Linked DNA regions of Homo sapiens. The protein of the gene in region 5 interacts with the protein of the main gene of each other region in a biochemical or structural test. Each region holds a gene or a part of one and is shown on either strand. Other genes may lie near its edges.

The links.
Region 1: the proteins of MYO6 (region 5) and AP2A1 form a complex in vitro, tested with the Homo sapiens proteins (one study listed by BioGRID).
Region 2: of the proteins of MYO6 (region 5) and PAK1, one has a biochemical effect on the other in vitro, tested with the Homo sapiens proteins (one study listed by BioGRID).
Region 3: the proteins of MYO6 (region 5) and CLTB form a complex in vitro, tested with the Homo sapiens proteins (one study listed by BioGRID).
Region 4: the proteins of MYO6 (region 5) and CLTC form a complex in vitro, tested with the Homo sapiens proteins (one study listed by BioGRID).

The regions. Positions count from the first base shown.
Region 1 is NC_000019.10:49,797,991-49,801,513, reverse strand, and holds part of AP2A1 (AP-2 complex subunit alpha-1), read right to left. Parts: intron 2,713-3,523; coding exon 2,562-2,712; intron 2,188-2,561; coding exon 2,019-2,187; intron 1,910-2,018; exon of another isoform or gene 1,886-1,909; coding exon 1,748-1,885; exon of another isoform or gene 1,547-1,747; coding exon 1,364-1,546; intron 554-1,363; coding exon 456-553; intron 125-455; coding exon 1-124.
Region 2 is NC_000011.10:77,331,074-77,334,596, reverse strand, and holds part of PAK1 (serine/threonine-protein kinase PAK 1), read left to right. Parts: intron 1-1,729; coding exon 1,730-1,867; intron 1,868-3,523. UniProt on the Homo sapiens protein: Protein kinase involved in intracellular signaling pathways downstream of integrins and receptor-type kinases that plays an important role in cytoskeleton dynamics, in cell adhesion, migration, proliferation, apoptosis, mitosis, and in vesicle-mediated transport processes.
Region 3 is NC_000005.10:176,406,525-176,410,047, forward strand, and holds part of CLTB (clathrin light chain B), read right to left. Parts: intron 185-3,523; coding exon of another isoform or gene 14-184; exon of another isoform or gene 1-13. UniProt on the Homo sapiens protein: Clathrin is the major protein of the polyhedral coat of coated pits and vesicles.
Region 4 is NC_000017.11:59,678,883-59,682,405, forward strand, and holds part of CLTC (clathrin heavy chain 1), read left to right. Parts: intron 1-514; coding exon 515-637; intron 638-2,029; coding exon 2,030-2,175; intron 2,176-2,412; coding exon 2,413-2,596; intron 2,597-2,764; coding exon 2,765-2,957; intron 2,958-3,388; coding exon 3,389-3,523. UniProt on the Homo sapiens protein: Clathrin is the major protein of the polyhedral coat of coated pits and vesicles. Two different adapter protein complexes link the clathrin lattice either to the plasma membrane or to the trans-Golgi network.
Region 5 is NC_000006.12:75,885,239-75,888,738, reverse strand, and holds part of MYO6 (unconventional myosin-VI), read right to left. Parts: intron 2,736-3,500; coding exon 2,645-2,735; intron 1,896-2,644; coding exon 1,745-1,895; intron 1-1,744. UniProt on the Homo sapiens protein: Myosins are actin-based motor molecules with ATPase activity. Unconventional myosins serve in intracellular movements. Myosin 6 is a reverse-direction motor protein that moves towards the minus-end of actin filaments.

The DNA.
Region 1 (3,523 bases), on a different chromosome or scaffold from region 5:
GATGGTGGCCTTGGTCTCGGGGAAGAGGTTGATGAACTTGATGTAGGTGGACAGCAGCAGCGCCCGCGTGGCCACGCTGCACAGATGGAACTTGGAGTGGAGCAGGGAGAACTGCACTGGGGGGCTGTGTGCAGGAGTGGGTGTCAGCGGGGCCAGGTTCCACTGCCCTCTCCCAGAAACCCCCTCGAGAGGTGCCCCTCCCTAGGATGGACCCGTCCCAGGACCCCAAGCTGCTGGAGGGGAGTGGCCCTCCCCAGGCACCAGACAGGGGCCGCAGTCACACTCTGTCCACGATCCTGGGACTAAGCTCCTTTCTTACCCTGCTAGGTGGATTGGGGTGGAGGCCGAGAGGATGGGAGCCCATCACTGCCTGCCCTGAGACCCCTGGGGATCCCCCAAGCCCTGGACCCCTCAGAAGCATGTGTGTTCTCCCCTGCAGGCTGAGGCTCCCTCACCTGGAGCGGGGGTCCCCAGCAATCAGGTTCCCAAACTCCCCAAGGATGTAGCCGCCAACCTTCACCATGTTCTCGTGACAGGCAGGGGCCTGGAGCGCCTGAGTGGGGTGGGGAAGGGCGTGGAGAGGACAACAATGAGCGCCCTCTCCGGGATCGGTGGGTGCAGCCACCTACTGACTGGTGGAACACTGAAAGCTCTGCTGCAGGTGGGGTTATAGGTGGGAAACTGAGTCACAGAAAGGTTGAGTGACGGGCCCAAGCTCACACAGGAAGTAAAACAGGGCTGTGGGCCGGAAGCAGTGGCTCATGCCTGTAATCCTGGTACTTTGGGAGGCCGAGGCGGGCAGATTGCCTGAGCTCAGGAGTTTCAAACCAGCCTGGGTAACATGGTGAAACCCCGTCTCTACTAAAAATACAAACAAATTAGCTGGGTGTGGTGGCGCGTGCCTGTAGTACCAGCTACTGGGGAGGCTGAGGCAGGAGAATGGCTTGACGCTGGGAGGCCGAGGTTGCAGTGAGCCGAGATCGCACCACGGCACTCACTCCCCACTCCAGCCTGGGCAACAGAGTGAGACTCCGTCTCCAGAAACAAACAAACAAACAAACAAAAAACAGGACTGTGTGGGGCCCCTTTCCTGGGGCAGAGGGAAACTACCGAGATCCGGGGGCCAGGACTGCACACTGGGTGCCCCATGCCCATGCCCTGGGGACTCCTCACATCAGGCCCATGAGACCATAGCCCTGGGTCCCCTGGGTTGGCCCAGAGAGGCAGAGGCCCCATTTTGAGGTCACGGCAGTGCAGGAGAAGGAGGGTGGCTGCGGGCTGGCAGGCGCCACGGCCCCGGCCATCCTTGCTCTGCCTCTAGGTCCTGTCGTGGGGTCATAGGGTCAGGGTCAGGGATGCTGACCTCAAAGACGGTCTTGGCGGCATAGCCCTGGACGTCATCACGGTTGGTGACGATCTGTAGCACACGGTACCACACCTCCTCACTCACGTAGTCGCCCGCAATGCGGATGAGGTTGAGGATGGTGTCCACGTACCAGCTGTAGTCCACGGCGTACTTCTCGGCCAGGATGGCCACCTTCAGGACCTGCCGCCGGGGCGTGTGAGAGAGAGTGTGCCGCAGGCCATGTCGGGCTTTCACTCACCTGGATCTGGGCTCACCACTGCCCCCATCTGGAGACCCAGGAGTCCAGGCCCCAGCCCCTCCTCCCTTAGACTTAGGAATCCAGGCCCCCAGCCACCTCCTGCCTCAGACCCAAGAGTCCAGCCCGCACCCCACAGCACTCACGATCTCCTCGCGGATGGCGTAGTCTGCCGTCTCCAGGTACCGCAGCATCTCCGACACGATCTGCTTGGCATTGCTCCGGTCACACATGGCGTAGAGGAGGTCAGCCGCCCGCTGCCGCACGCTGACGTCCCGCTCCGTCTGAGGGCGGAGAGCAGAGCCCAGGTGTGTTTTAGACTCCCTGTTGGCACAGGGTTGGCCACCCAAGGGCCTCTGAGCCTCTGGTCTTTCTGAGGGGGGTGGCAGGCCCGGGGTGGGCTCCAAGGGCTCACACCTTGAGGGCATTGATGACGGTGTCAATGTGCGTCTTGACGGCTTCATGGGAGAACTCGGAGCTGGCCAGCGTGCACATGCTCTCCAGGGCCAGGTAGCGCAGGTTGGTCTCCCGGTGCTGCAGGAACTGGCCCAGCTGGTTGCAGGCCCGAACCAGGAGGTTGGGCTCACTGCCAGCAGGGGCCACAAGAGAGGGATGGTGAGAGAAACTGACAGGAGAAGGTGGAGGACTCGGGCCCCAGCTGACCCATCTCACAGCCCCCAAGGATCCAGGTCTTAACCTTGCCGGCCTTGCATCGCAGTACTGCACCTCCAGTGACCCAGACAACTGGGCCTTTGAGCCCAGAGAAAGATACCTAGCAATTCTGCCCCCAGGAAGGGCCCCAGCACCAACCTCACAGGTGACACTTCACAGCCCCATCCTCCTCCTACCCTACCTAAAAGTCAAGATTCCCTGCCCTCTGCCTAGGACTCAGGAGTCCGGGCCTCCATGCCCCTCTTTCCTGGCCCCAGGCATCAGGCCCTGATAGGCCCAGGCGGGCACCTGTCATAGTGGATGATGAGGCTGATGGTCTCGAAGAGGATGGCGTTCTTGGCGTTGGAATGCTGCACCTTCTTGGATTTGGGGGGCTCCTGGGCCTTGTTGAGCACAGTCTCCAGACATTCCACCAGCCGCCCCTTCACAGCCGCATCCTCTGGGGAAACGAAGGGGACGCCCCCGGCTGAGTGTCCTGCCCACCTGGCACACCTGCTGGGGTGGTGGCCATGCCCCAGCTCCTGTCTTCCAAAGGAGGAGCTCGGGGTGCCTCTGACACTCGAGAATTCTGCAGCTCAGGGCCAGGGTCTCTGCTCCCTCAACCTCTTCCCAGCCCAGCAGAGATGGTGAGACAAGGCACCTCTGGAGACACAAGATCTATCCCCAGACCTGGGCTCTCCTCCTGCTCTGACCCTCTCGGGCAAGAGGTGGCACCATGTGAGCCTCAGTTTCCTCATCTGCAGCTCTGAGGCTCCTTAGGTTTCTCACAGAGCAAAGGAAGCTCCAGGAACCTTCCCCAGAGGTGCCCCCAAACCCAGGCCTTCCCAAGGACTGGTGTGAGTGCTGAGCAGCCCCTGACAAAAATGCACAAGCCACCCACCCAAGTGTCCATTCAGCAAGAGGCCACTGCAGGCACACTCGGTGCCATCCTCCTGGCCTAGAGGCTGGGAGGCCAAAGGAGACAAGGCTCAACCAGGTGCCCCCTCACCCCCCAGAGCTCTCCACCACTGACAGATGCCAGCCAGCAGCTCACAGGAGCACCAATCACCACGTTTCCTAGAATGTGACGTGTTTTCAAGTGTATGCAAGAGCTGTCAAGCGTTCCAGCAAAAAATGGTTCCGCAGATTTTTCTGCAGAATTTTCCGCAGGAAAATTCACCAGATAGAGGAACAAGCTAAAATACACCACAAGGCAGCAATGAGCCCAGTCGCCACCATGGGACACACAGCAATGGCATCTCCTGGTTTCT
Region 2 (3,523 bases), on a different chromosome or scaffold from region 5:
ACAATTTATCCCTTGTAACAGAGCATCTCAACACAGGTGCAAATAGGTTGGTAATCTTGGTGTGGGCAAATGTGAAATTTATTCTGATTGCTTTTATTTTCTCATTTATTCCCACCTCCCATCCAGTGCAGGAATTCCCTGTGCACTGTTGCTGGTAGGTGGTCATCTACATGCTCATGTCATCCTTGAATATCTCTGATTATTGGAAATTGCTTCAGTGCACCAAACTGAAACTACCTTCTGTAGTTTCTATCCTTTGATCCCAGCTTTGCCTCTGACTCCACATACAACATACTCTTCCCTCCCTTAGAACGGCCTTGCAGATATTTGAAGATGATAATTGCTGGGATATGTTGGAAATAAGACAGAATGATCCTAGACATAGGCATATTTTTTTATTTTTTTATTTTTATTTTATTTTTTTTTTTGAGATGGAGTCTCACTCTGTCACCTAGGCTGGAGTGCAATGGTGTGATCTCAGCTCACCGCAACCTCCACCTCCCAGGTTCAAGCGATTCTCCTGCCTCAGCCTCCTGAGTAGCTGGGATTACAGGCACCTGCCACCATGCCCAGCTAAGTTTTGTATTTTTAGTAGAGACCACATTTCGCCATATTGGTCAGGCTGTTCTCGATGGTCTCGAACTCCTGACCTCAGGTGATCCACCCACCTCAGCCTCCCAAAGTGCTGGGATTACAGGAGTGAGCCACCACGCCCGGCCCTAGACATATCTTTTTATGTTTCCGGACCCTATCTGTGAAGTGAAGATGATAAGTCTTGCCCTATTACCCAGAGTTAATTGTGGCCATTAAATTAGACAGTGCTTATGTAAGTACTCTTTGAATTAAGTGCTGAGTGCTTGTAAAGATTTAGTCTTACTGTTTTTCTTTACCTTTCCCAGGAGACGCTTCATTTAGGGGACTAGGGTGGCAACAGTTTTCACTTACATTTAATATTCCTTTCCTGCTAGAAGAGATCAGTTCTTGGATGACTGAGGTGAAGGCACCAGGAATAATTTCTGCCAGCAGCTGGGCAGATGTTTAACTCAACAGGCTAAATGGATAATAAACCCTTCAGATGTGTAAGCAAGAATAATAATAAAGCCAGGCACAGTGACTCACGCCTGTAATCCCAGCACTTTGGGAGGTTGAGGCAGGAGGATCACTTGAGTCTAGGAGTTTGAGACCAGCCAGGCCAACATGGTAAAACCCCGTCTCTACTGAAAATACGAAAAGCAGTCGGGTGTAGTGGCTGGTGCCTGTAATCCCAGCTACTTGGGAGGCTGAGTCAGGAGAATTGCTTGAACCTGGGAGGTGGAGGTTGCAGTGAGCCAAGATCGTGCCACTGCACTCCAGCCTGGGCGACAGAGCAAGACTCCATCTCAAAAAAAAAAAAAAAAAAAAAGAAGAAGAAGAATAAACCCTTAGGTCTGTAACATATTTCATAAGTTTACAAAGTACTTTCAAATACACTATCTTATTTTATTTTTACAGACATGTGAGATGGGCATTATCATCATCCCTACTTTACAGACAGGGAAGTTGTACATAGTCCCATGGCCTTTAAATGTTCAACCTGATCCTTAGGTCATACTCTTTCCAGTATATATACACAGCTGCTACTTTGCATCCTAGAGCATAAAGCAGCTGACCATATTTCTAGAACTTGTATATGGGGAACAAGAGAGAGCCTCATTTGGAGCTCAAGGTGATTCACCATTTTTATTGCCAGGCCTTGTACCTCATTGCCACCAATGGGACCCCAGAACTTCAGAACCCAGAGAAGCTGTCAGCTATCTTCCGGGACTTTCTGAACCGCTGTCTCGAGATGGATGTGGAGAAGAGAGGTTCAGCTAAAGAGCTGCTACAGGTAACTGTCCTTATGCAGGGAAGCACCTAATTCAGGGAATCACTAAACCAGGCCTTTTTTACTTCATGTTTGTAAGGTACTGGATATTATAGAACTAGGCTTCTCTTCTACCACTTCCTACACTCACTCTGTTCCTACTGCCCTTTTATCCCTGGGCCTTTGCTCATTTATTTTCTTAGCCTTTCTCAGCCTGTTAAAACTCTACACGTTCTCCTAGGCTCAGTTTACAATCTATTTTCTGAGCACCTATTGAGCTTTGCTTGTAGCTTTTTTGCTTGCTTCCTTCCTTCCTTTCCTTTCTTCTTCCTTTCCCTTTCCTTCCCTTCCTTTCCCTTCCCTTCCCTTCCCTTCCCTTCCCTTCCTTTCCCTTCCCTTCCCTTTCCCCCCCCTCTTCCCTCTCCCCCTTCCTCTCACGCCCCACAGGGTCTCACTCTGTCACCCAGGCAGGAGTGTGCAATGGCGTGATTTTGTCTCACTGCAGTCTTCCTCTCCTGGGTTCACTCAAGTGATCTTCCCACCTCAGCCTCCCAGGTAGCTCAGACTACAGGTGCACGCCACCATACCTGGCTAGTTTTTTAAAAACTTTTTTGTAGAGACGGGGTTTTGCTATGTTGGCCGTGCATGGTCTCAAATTCCTGGGTTCAAGCGATCTGCGCACTTCGCTTTCCCAAAGTGCTGGGACTACAGGCATGGGCCACCATGACCAGCCTGCTTGTATCTTTCATTAGCACTTCCTTTGTTCTGTTTGAATTAGTCTGGCAGAGTTTGTTTGAGTCTTGTTGAGAAACGGGTCTCTGACACCCAAATCTTACACAACTTATATTTTGCTGGGATTAGCTCAAAGGATACATTTTTAGCAAAGGAACATAAGTTTATTTTATTTTATTTATGTTTTATTTTTCTTTCTTTTTTTTTAATTCTTTTTTTTTTACATTTTATTATTATTATACTTTTAAGTTTTAGGGTACATGTGCACAACGTGCAGGTTTGTTACATATGTATACATGTACCATGTTGGTGTGCTGTACCCATTAACTCGTCATTTAGCATTAGGTATATCTCTTAATGCTATCCCTCCACCCTCCCCTGACCCCACAACAGTCCCGGGTGTGTGATGTTCCCCTTCCTGTGTCCATGTGTTCTCATTGTTCATTTCCTACCTATGAGTGAGAACATGCAGTGTTTGGTTTTTTGTCCTTGCAATAGTTTGCTGAGAATGATGGTTTCCAGTTTCATCCATGTCCCTACAAAGGACATGAACTCATCATTTTTTATGGCTGCATAGTATTCCATGGTGTATATGTGCCACATTTTCTTAATCCAGTCTATCGTTGTTGGACATTTAGGTTGGTTCCAAGTCTTTGCTGTTGTGAATAGTGCCACTATAAACATACGTGTGCATGTGTCTTTACAGCAGCATGATTTATAATCCTTTGGGTATATACCCAGTAATGGGATGGCTGGGTCAAATGGTATTTCTAGTTCTAGATCCCTGAGGAATTGCCACACTGACTTCCACAATGGTTGAACTAGTTTACACTCCCACCAACAGTGTAAAAGTGTTCGTATTTCTCCACATCCTCTCCAGCACGTGTTGTTTCCTGACTTTTTAATGATCGCCATTCTAACTGGTGTGAGATGGTATCTCATTGTGGT
Region 3 (3,523 bases), on a different chromosome or scaffold from region 5:
GATGATGGGAGTATTAGGGGAAAGGAGAGAGGATCTGTGCAGAGGTGGGGAGGCGGAGTCCTGCAGGGCCCTTCTGTCCCTGCCCCTGGCTGTGCCAAATGGAACTGGAATAGTTGTGGGCAGGCTCGTCCTTAGGCTGTATTGGCAACTGGGTTTGTAGCTGGACCCGCTGGTGGTGCACGGGCTGCAGAAAAGAGGAAGAAAGGAAGCACAAAAGCTCTGTCTGGGATCCTTGAAAGTGTTGGGTGTGCACAGGCCAAGGTTTCTCCTCCCCCTGCAGGTGCAGGCCAGACCTGCTATGCTCAATCCTAAAGAGCTGGGGCTTTCCACCTGTGACCCAGGCGCTGTGGCCAGCCAGTTCCAGCAACAGAGTCGTAATGCAAAGCACACCGGGTCGGAGCCCAGGAGATGTAGGCAAGCTGGGGCTTTGCCACTAAGCTTCTGAGTGATTCAGCTCATCTGTGACCCTGCCCTGCCTGTAAGGATTCTCGGATGGCACTGATGTGATATGATTTACAAATAAACACACCTGCTGTGATTCTTAGTAACAGTGAGAATAAGAGTTCTCACTCAGATTGGAAAGGAGGCCCCGGGCTCCTCAGATTCACCCACAGCTCACCCACGGCTGACAGGTCGGGAGGGAGAAGGCGGGGGGCCAAGTCAAATGGGGTGCACTCCAGAAGTGGCTGATTTCCTGGGTGACTTTGCATTCACCACTTCACCTCTCTGAGCTTCGTGATGCTAATCTTTAGGAAAGGTAAATGATCCAGCTCAGAGTGTTCTAGGTACTTTCTTTTTTGAGACAAAGTCTCGCTCTGTCGTCCAGGCTGGAGTGCAGTGTGCGATCTCAGCTCACTGCAACCTCTGCCTCTGGGTTCAAGCAGTTCTCCTGCCTCAGCCTCCTGAGTAGCTGGGATTACAGGCAACCACTACCCTGCCTAGCCAATTTTTGTATTTTTAGTAGAGACAGGGTTTCTCCATGTTGGCCAGGCTGGTCTTGAACTCCTGACCTCAAATGATCTACCCACCTCAGCCTCCCACTGCTGGGATTACAGGCGTGAGCCACTGTGCCCGGCCATGTTCTACATACTTCTGTGGTTCCAAGCATATCTCCAGCTCCAGGTGCACTTTAGGACACAGAACTGTGGGGTCAAGCAAAGTCCTTCTGAATGTGGCCAGAGAGCCTGGGCAGCCTAAGTCTTAATGATCTACCAAGCTGCACAGAAGCAAATCCTCATTCTTTGACTCCCTCGGGCCCAACTAGACATGAAGCTGCTGAAGTCCTAGAGATGGACTTTTCCAGCTTGCTGATAGTTGAGTAATTTTCCAGAAACAGGACTTGGCCAGTCTCCCTGCATAAGGTACCAGCCCATCCCTCTTACATAAGAAAATAAGTATTGTTTACTCCCCCAGAGGATTCAAGAAGCCAGCTCCTCCAGGGCGGGGCTCAGAAGATCCCACAGCCAAAGACCCCAGGATCAAGGCTCTTTGGCCCAGTCTGAGTGGGAATGAAGGCTCTGAGGGGAGGTTTAGCCCCACCAGGCATCTGGCTGGGGGGCCGAGGTGAGGACTATTGCATGCCTCTGTGGTCTGAGTTCCCTCAGAGTACTAAAATGGATTTGTGTGTATGCAAGGGGAAGAGAGTTAGGTGGGTGCGGACAGAAGCAGTCTTAACTAGAAATACACTTACTAGGGTTTTCCTCTTTTTTTTTTTTTTAAGACTGTCATGCCGGGCACGGTGGCTCGTGCCTGTAATCCCAGCACTTTGGGAGGCCGAGGTGGGTGGATCACTTGAAGGTCAGGAGTTCGAGACCAGCCTGGCCAACATGATGAAACACCATCTCTACTAAAAATACAAAAGATTAGCTAGGCGTGGTGGCGGGTGCCTGTAATCCCAGCTACTCAGGAGGCTGAGGCAGGAGAATCACTTGAACTCAGGAGGCGGAGGCTGCAGGGAGCCGAGATCGTGCCATTGCACTCCAGCCTGGGCAATAAGAGCAAAACTCCATCTCAGGAAAAAAAAAAAAAAAAGACTCACCCAGGCTAAGTGTAGTAGTGTAATCATAGTCACTGCAGCCTGGACCTCCCCAGCTCAAGCTGTAATCCTCCCACCTAAGACTACTGAGTAGCTGGGACTATAGGCACACACTATTGCCCCAGCTAATTTTTCATTTTTTGCAGAAATGGGGTCTTACTATGTTGCCCAGTTTGGTCTCAAACTCCTGGATTCACATGATCTTCTCACTTTGGCCTCCCAAAATCTGGGATTACAGGCGTAAGCCGCCGTGCCCGGCTGGGTTTTCCTCGTTTTTTGCAGGATAAAAACACTTAAAGAATTTGTAAACAACCCAGTGAAAGTGAATGCCCCTTTCTTATCCCCATCCCACCCCACCCTTGGGGCTAACCATTGTTAACAGCTGGTACACATCCTTTCAGATATGTAGTGCAAACCTTTAGTTTTATTTTTTTGAGATAGAGTTTTGCTCTTGTTGCCCAGGCTGGAGTGCAGTGGCGTGATCTCGGCTCACCGCAACCTCCCACTCCCGGATTCAAGCTATTCTCCTGCCTCAGCCTCCCAAGTAGTTAGGATTATAGGCTTGTGCCACCACACCCAGCTAATTTTGTATTTTTAGTAGAGGTGCGGTTTCACCGTGTTAGCCAGGATGGTCTCAATCTTCCAACCTCATGATCCACCTGCCTTGGCCTCCCAAAGTGCTAGGGTTACAGGCATGAGCCACCACGCCCAGCCCAAACATATTTTTAAAATTGAAAAAAAAAAAAAAAAAAAGGACCATACTGTGTATATTATTCTGCAAGCTGCTTTTTCCACTTAATATATTGTGGACATCTTTTCACGTCAATACAGGAAGATCTGATTGCCCTTTTTTTTTTTTTTTTTTTTTTTTCAGACAGAGTTTCACTCTCATCTCCCAGGCTGGAGAGCAATGGCACAATCTCAGCTCACTGCAACCTCCACCTTCTGGGTTCAAGTGATTCTCCTGCCTTAGCCTCCCGAGTAGCTGGAATTACAGGCACCTGCCACAATGACTGGCTAATTTTCTGTATTTTTAGTAAAGACGGGGTTTCACTATGTTGGCCAGGCTGGTCTTGAACTCTGACCTCACGTGATCCACCCACCTCAGCCTCCCAAAGTGCTGGGATTACAGGCGTCAGCCACTGCACCCGGCCCTGATTGCCCTTTTTAACAACAGCCTGGTTTTCTAATCTATCTATTCAGTTCCCTGATGCTGGACACTTAGGTTGTCTCCAAATTGTCTGCCATTATAAATAACCCTGCAAAGAATCTGGGTGGCCTTGTCCAATTATTTCCTTTGGGAAAATTCTGGAAGTGGAATCTCTGGATCAAAGGGCCCGCCCTGTGTGTGGAGATGGCCTGGGTTCTGCCTCCCGTCAGTGGTGAGGGAAGGCCTTGCGCTGCCTTCATCTCATGCTGCTGTGGGCCACTTGACCTCTCCCTCCCAAAACCAGACATCACCATGGGCAACCTGAGGCTACTGCCCAT
Region 4 (3,523 bases), on a different chromosome or scaffold from region 5:
TTCAAGCTACCCAGAAAGCTGAGGCAGGAGGATCACTTGAGCCCAGGAGGTCAATGTTGCAGTGAGCTATGATCGCAACACTGCACTCTCCAACCTTGACAACAGAGCAAGACTCCTACTTTCTGAAAATATTAGAAGTCAAGATCTGAGCTTTAGTGTATTTGCTTCTAAGATCTTTCAGTGGTCAGGGCTTAGTTACATTTATGTACATACATATGCTCATTTATGTACATACATGTGCATATACGCATGGAAAAATAAACACACAAGAACAGCTAGTAAAACACTGAAAACTGTAAAAGTGGACTAGTCCTACCAGATGTTGAACTGTGTATTACAAAGTCTATATAATTAAAACAGTATATTACTGGTACATGAATCAAAGTCCAAAACTAGATCCAATATCAGTAAGATTATCAATAAACATAGTTTAAAAGATAGGAAATACCCTCTAAAATGCTATAAAAAGTCCTTTACTTTTTACCTTGAAATTAATCTATCATATCTTCTTTAGGTTTGCAATGAGAATTCCCTCTTCAAAAGTCTTTCTCGCTACCTGGTACGTCGAAAGGATCCAGAATTGTGGGGCAGCGTGCTGCTGGAAAGCAATCCTTACAGGAGACCCCTAATTGACCAGGTAACATTGGCAAATGTGTTTATGGCTGTCAGTAAAAATTATACATTTTTAACTATGAATACAATCCTTTCCCTCATCATGTACTCAAATGGATCATATATAACTATGAGAGAAAGCAATACAAAGTAGAAGAAAATTAAAATTTATATATATTCAATTTACATTCATTTGTATATAATGAATGTAAATTGATTATATACATTATATACAAATGAATGTACATTTATATAAGTATAAATATGTATATAACATACATTAAGAAAAATAAGCCATGTGCGGTGGCTCACGCCTGTAATTCCAGCACTTTGGGAGGCCGAGGTGGGTGGATCACCTGAAGTCAGGAGTTCGAGACCAGCCTGGCCAACGTAGTAAAACCCCATCTCTACTAAAAATACAAAAATTAGCCAGGTGCATGTAATCCCAGCTACTCGGCAGGAAAATCGCTTGAACCCGGGAGGTGGAGGTTGCAGTAAGCCGAGATCACGCCATTGCACTCCAGCCTGGGTGATAAGAGCAAGACTGTCTCAAAAAAACAAAAAGAAAAAAGAAAAAGAAAATACATCCCAAAAGACCTGACTTAATTATATAAAACTCTCTTGGTTCATCATAGTTTAAAAGGAAAATAACAAACTAAACATTAAAGATTGCTATTATTAACACTTAAGTGGCTAAATTGATTGGAAACTTCAAGATAATAAGTCAGAAAAATATAAGGATAAGAGAAAATACAAAAGACCAAGTGCATCAGTGTTATATCTTACTAATAAGAAGTATAGAACTGCAAATGAGATGGGGTTTTATACCTAAATAAAATAGACAACATATTTTAAAAGTTCTAAAAATAGAAGAGTTGTTATAATGAGTCTTAAATTCTCCTGAGATAAGTATAAATAAAATATTTTGGAAACGAATAGGTTGAAGGCTATTAATATTTCATTCCTTTCCTAGGAAGCACTTCTAAGCAACATTCCCAAGTAGTTACAAAGCTTCCTAGGGGAAGGTTGTGGGGGTGGGGGCGATGGTTGGAAATCATTGCAGCATCTAGAAAACCAAGCAAATAGCCAAAACCAGACGAATTACCGATATTTTAATTCCACATCTGTGTAGCTGAATTTTGAATTATGTGTAGCCATTAAAGTGATAATGATGATTGCTAGCCTGGATAATGTTTTAATCAGGGAAAAGATAGAAATTATATAATTAGAGTAATTTTTCAACACAATTATACATATTGTATAGATTTGTGTAGAAAGACCTCTCTATGTAAATTTAAAGGTCTTTTTCCTACTTCATTCTTTTCTGCCTATTTCAAGTTTTCTAATGAGAGGCCAACTTACGCTTTTTTAAAACCAACTTGATTCTCAGTACTTATGTCCCATATATCCTCTGTAGGTTGTACAAACAGCTTTGTCTGAGACTCAGGACCCTGAAGAAGTGTCAGTAACTGTAAAGGCTTTCATGACTGCAGACCTTCCTAATGAACTCATTGAACTGCTGGAGAAAATTGTCCTTGATAACTCTGTATTCAGTGAACACAGGTATGCTTTCAGAGGGATCCATTGGCTATTTATAGTCAGTCTTTAATAAATTATGGCCCATCAGTTTTGGGAAGGAACAAAAAGATCAGAGAAAGTTGCCTGAATTCTCACTCTTCTAATATCCTCCCCCCTACCCTACCTCTTGAGACAAAAACCTCTCCGTTAGTCACAGTGGTTATTTTTTATGTCGGATAAACTTAAAATATTGCATTTAAAATATTCTTTTTTTTCTTAAAGGAATCTGCAAAACCTCCTTATCCTCACTGCAATTAAGGCTGACCGTACACGTGTTATGGAGTATATTAACCGCCTGGATAATTATGATGCCCCAGATATTGCCAATATCGCCATCAGCAATGAGCTGTTTGAAGAAGCATTTGCCATTTTCCGGAAATTTGATGTCAATACTTCAGCAGTTCAGGTAAATCTTCAGATTACCTAAGTTGAATTACTAAACACTGTGCTATGAGGGTGGGCCTAATTGGTTGCTACGGCAATAGAGCAGCAATAAAATACTAACAGCTTAAATGTAATTGCTTTGGGTAGGATTGATTTTACTCTAACCCTAATTTCAAACTTGGATACTTAGGTCTTAATTGAGCATATTGGAAACTTGGATCGGGCATATGAGTTTGCTGAACGTTGCAATGAACCTGCGGTCTGGAGTCAACTTGCAAAAGCCCAGTTGCAGAAAGGAATGGTGAAAGAAGCCATTGATTCTTATATCAAAGCAGATGATCCTTCCTCCTACATGGAAGTTGTTCAGGCTGCCAATACTAGTGGTATGACTTCTTACCTTATGTATTGAAACCTCATAAAATGATTAAGCTAAGCATTAAGATATCTGTCTATTCTGAATTTTAGAAGAGTTGGATACTGCATGGTTTCTTTTAGTGCTCCATCTTAGTCCAGATAAAAAGAGGCTGTATTTTGTGAATTTGTAAGTTCACAAAACTTACAAGTGGGGAAGATGAATCTTCTGTTTTTGAAGTCTCATAAAATCCTGATAGTGCTCTAATCTTAAAACTTTAAGGAAAAAGAATTCATCTATTCATTTGGTCCGTGATAATACAGAAGTGAAATATTGCACGGTTTACATTTGTCATTATCCATGTTTCCTTGAAAAGGAAATGAATGCAATTTTCATTTACTTGGGTGAAAGATAAACTAGGATGTTAGTGTTTGGATATATTTTTTCTTTTTCTATACTTAGGAAACTGGGAAGAACTGGTGAAGTACTTGCAGATGGCCCGTAAGAAGGCTCGAGAGTCCTATGTGGAGACAGAACTGATATTCGCACTGGCTAAAACAAACCGCCTTGCAGAGTTAGAAGAATTTATCAATGGAC
Region 5 (3,500 bases):
GCATAAAAGAGAATGTAAGGTAAAGTAAAAACAAGTAAAATTATACTGTAAAAATAACAGTAACTAACTGAATTTGTTAATGTGGAGGTATTAAGAGGTTTTTGGTGGTTTCTCCAATTTTTTTTTTTTTTTAGCCAGGGGTCTCACTGTCACCCAGGCTGGAGTGCAGTGGTGCAATCTCTGTTCACTGCAACCTCCATCTCCTAGGCTCAAGCAATCCTCTAACCTCAGCTTCCTTGGGACCTCAGGCTCATACCACCATGCCCAAATAATTTTTTGTATTTTTGGTGGAGACAGGTTTTGGCCATGTTGATCAGGTTGGTCTCTAACTCCTGAGCTCAGGTGATCCCTGCGCCTGGGCCTCCCAAAGTGCTGGGATTACAGGTGTGAGCCATCACATCTGGCCTCCAAATTTTTTATAGTATTATATTACTTTTATCATTTATTTATTTATTTTTAGACGTAGTCTCACTCTGTCGCTGAGGCAGGAGTGCAGTGGCACAATCTTGGCTCACTGCAACCTCTGCCTCCTGGGTTCAAGCAATTCTCCTGCCTCAAGTAGCTGGAACTACAGGCGCGTGCGATCACACCTGGCTAACTTTGGTATTTTCAGTAGAGACGGCGATTCACTATGTTGGCTGGGCTGGTCTCAACCTCCTGACCTCAAATAATCCGCCCACCTCGGCCTCCCAAAGTGCTGGGATTACAGGCAGGAGCCACCATGCCCCACCACTTTTATTTTTATTTATTTATTTTTTTTGAGACGGAGTCTTGCTCTGTCACCCAGGCTGGAGTGCAGTGGCGCGATCTCGGCTCACTGCAAGCTCCGCCCCCCCGGTTCACTCCATTCTCCTGCCTCAGCCTCCCAAGTAGCTGGGGCTACAGGTGCCCCCCATCACGCCTGGCTAATTTTTTTTTTTTGTATTTTTAGTAGAGACAAGGTTTCACCATGTTAGCCAGGATGGTCTCAATCTCCTGACCTTGTGATCCGCCTGCCTCGGCCTCCCAAAGTGCTGGGATTACAGGCGTGACCCACCGTGCCCGGCCATTTTCTTTTTGCTCCAACTTTAGTTTTCTTTTTTCATTTTTTTTTTTTTTTGAGATGGAGTCTCACTCTGTCACCAGGCTGGAGTGCAGTGGCACAATCTTGGCTCACTGCAATCTCCGCCTCCCAGGTTCAAGCGATTCTCCTGCCTCAGCCTCCCAAGCAGCTGGAATTACAGGTGCACGCCACCACACCCAGCTAGTTTTGTATTTTTAGTAGAGACAGGGTTTCACCATGTTGGCCATGATGGTCTCGATCTCCTGACCTCATGATCCGTCCGCCTCAGCATCCCAAAGTGCTGGGATTACAGGCATGAGCCACCATGTATGGCCTCCAACTTTTATTTTAATTTCAGGGATGCACGTGCAGGATGTGCAGGTTTGTTACACAGGTAAACGTGTGCCATGGTGGGTTTGATGCACAGATCATCCCATCACCTAGGTATTAAGTTGCGAGGGATATCTTTCTTAGCAACAGAAGAAATGGCATAAAAATTGTCTTCTTTAACTTTTTGCTATGAAATTTTTCAAACATAAAGAGTAGAGGTAATAATGATGAGCATGTACTTGCCATCATTGAGTCTCAACACATTTTGTAATTTTGAAAAACTAAGGACGTTTTCTATACAATTTCAATACCAATAACAAAATATATTAAATTACATAAAAAGTCAAAGTCATTCGGGTTGAAATTACATACCTTAATTTTGGCCATCAAAGTATCAATAGAAATTTCCAGATTCTTGATCTGTTTATTCATCTCGGGTTTTCCATCTTTCAACACACTGACTACCTCATTAAATTTATCAAGTCGTTTTTTCAGTGTGCCCACCTTAACCAGACCATCAATGCTGTAAAAATAATACTTCATTAGAGCTTAATTTCATCCTTTAGTACTTTTGGCAGATTTTTCATTTATAAAATGCTAAACAGGGTATTTCACTTCTGTTTTCAATATTATCTACTATTCTCTTTTTCAGATCTCTTGTTGAAGGCTAAAAAAAATCAAATATGAGTGTGAATGACACTGATGCCTGTCAATGGGATTAAAGCCTTCTACAACTTTGAGAATTCAAATCACAGAGGAAATTAATCTAGTCTCTTTGAAAAGGTGTGATGGATCAATAGAGATATTCAGACTTCCAATTTTTAAAAGTGTAAATTAAAAATGAAAGATTCAAATAAGAAATACACTAATTTATAATGGGACAATGTAATTCCTACAGATAATCTTGAAAATTATGTAAACATATTAGTGAGATGTTTTTTAAAAAATGTCACCTTGACATTATCAAGAAACTCAAATAACTAAAATAATCAGAATAAAAGAGCTTCTCTCAACTACTTACTTCTTGTTTTATAGTCTTTACACATTTTTGTATGCCACTTCAAATCCTTTTATAGAATGAGGCAAGTAATAAGGTAATAAATGAATTAACTAACTTCAAATAAATATTACAAATAAAAGACTAATACATCATTTTACAAAGAACATGAGAAAACCTGAGTATCCAAACTGCTTTTTATTATGACTTTATTGTCATTTTGTATTACAGTAACTAGGTTTTGTAGAGTTCTTTTTAGGAACTATTCATCTTACCGAGGTTTGTGTCTCCTCTTGCAAAGCCACATTCGAATAGTTTTTTGCATTTTAATGCAGGCTTCAGCTCGATATTTTATTTTGTTTTTCACTATGTGTAAGAGTAAAATAAAATGATAGAAAATTATTCAGTTTAAATCTAACATATATTAAAAAAACTCATTTTCACAAAGTAATGCTCAAGAAACATGAAATCTTGACGACCATATTATTATATATCAGACATCAAAAACAAAGTTTTAACACCTTTTTTGTTTGTTTTTGTTTTGACAGTCTCAACCCAGGCTGGAGTGCAATGGCATGATCTTGGCTCATTGCAACCTCCACCTCCCAGGTTCAAGAGATTCTCGGCCGGGCGCGGTGGCTCACGCCTGTAATCCCAGCACTTCGGGAGGCCAAGGCGGGCGGATCGTAGGGTCGGGAGATTGAGACCATCCTGGCTAACACGGTGAAACCCCGTCTCTACTAAAAATACAAAAAATTAGCCAGGCATGGTGGCGGGCGCCTGTAATCCCAGCTATGGGAGGCTGAGGCAGGAGAATGGCGTGAACCCGGGAGGCGGAGCTTGCGGTGAGCTGAGATCGTGCCACTGCACTCCGGCCTGGGTGACACAGCAAGACTCCATCTCAAAAAAAAAAAAAAGAGATTCTCATGCCTCAGCCTCCTGAGTAGGTGAGGTGGGACTACAGGCACACACCATGCTGGGCTAATTTGTGTATTTTTATTCGAGCCAGGGTTTTGCCATGTCGGCCAGGCTGGTCTTGAATTCCTGACCTCAAGTGATCCTCCCACCTCAGCCTCCCAAAGTGCTAGGATTACAGGCGTGAGCCACCACGCCCAGCCAGTTTTAACATTT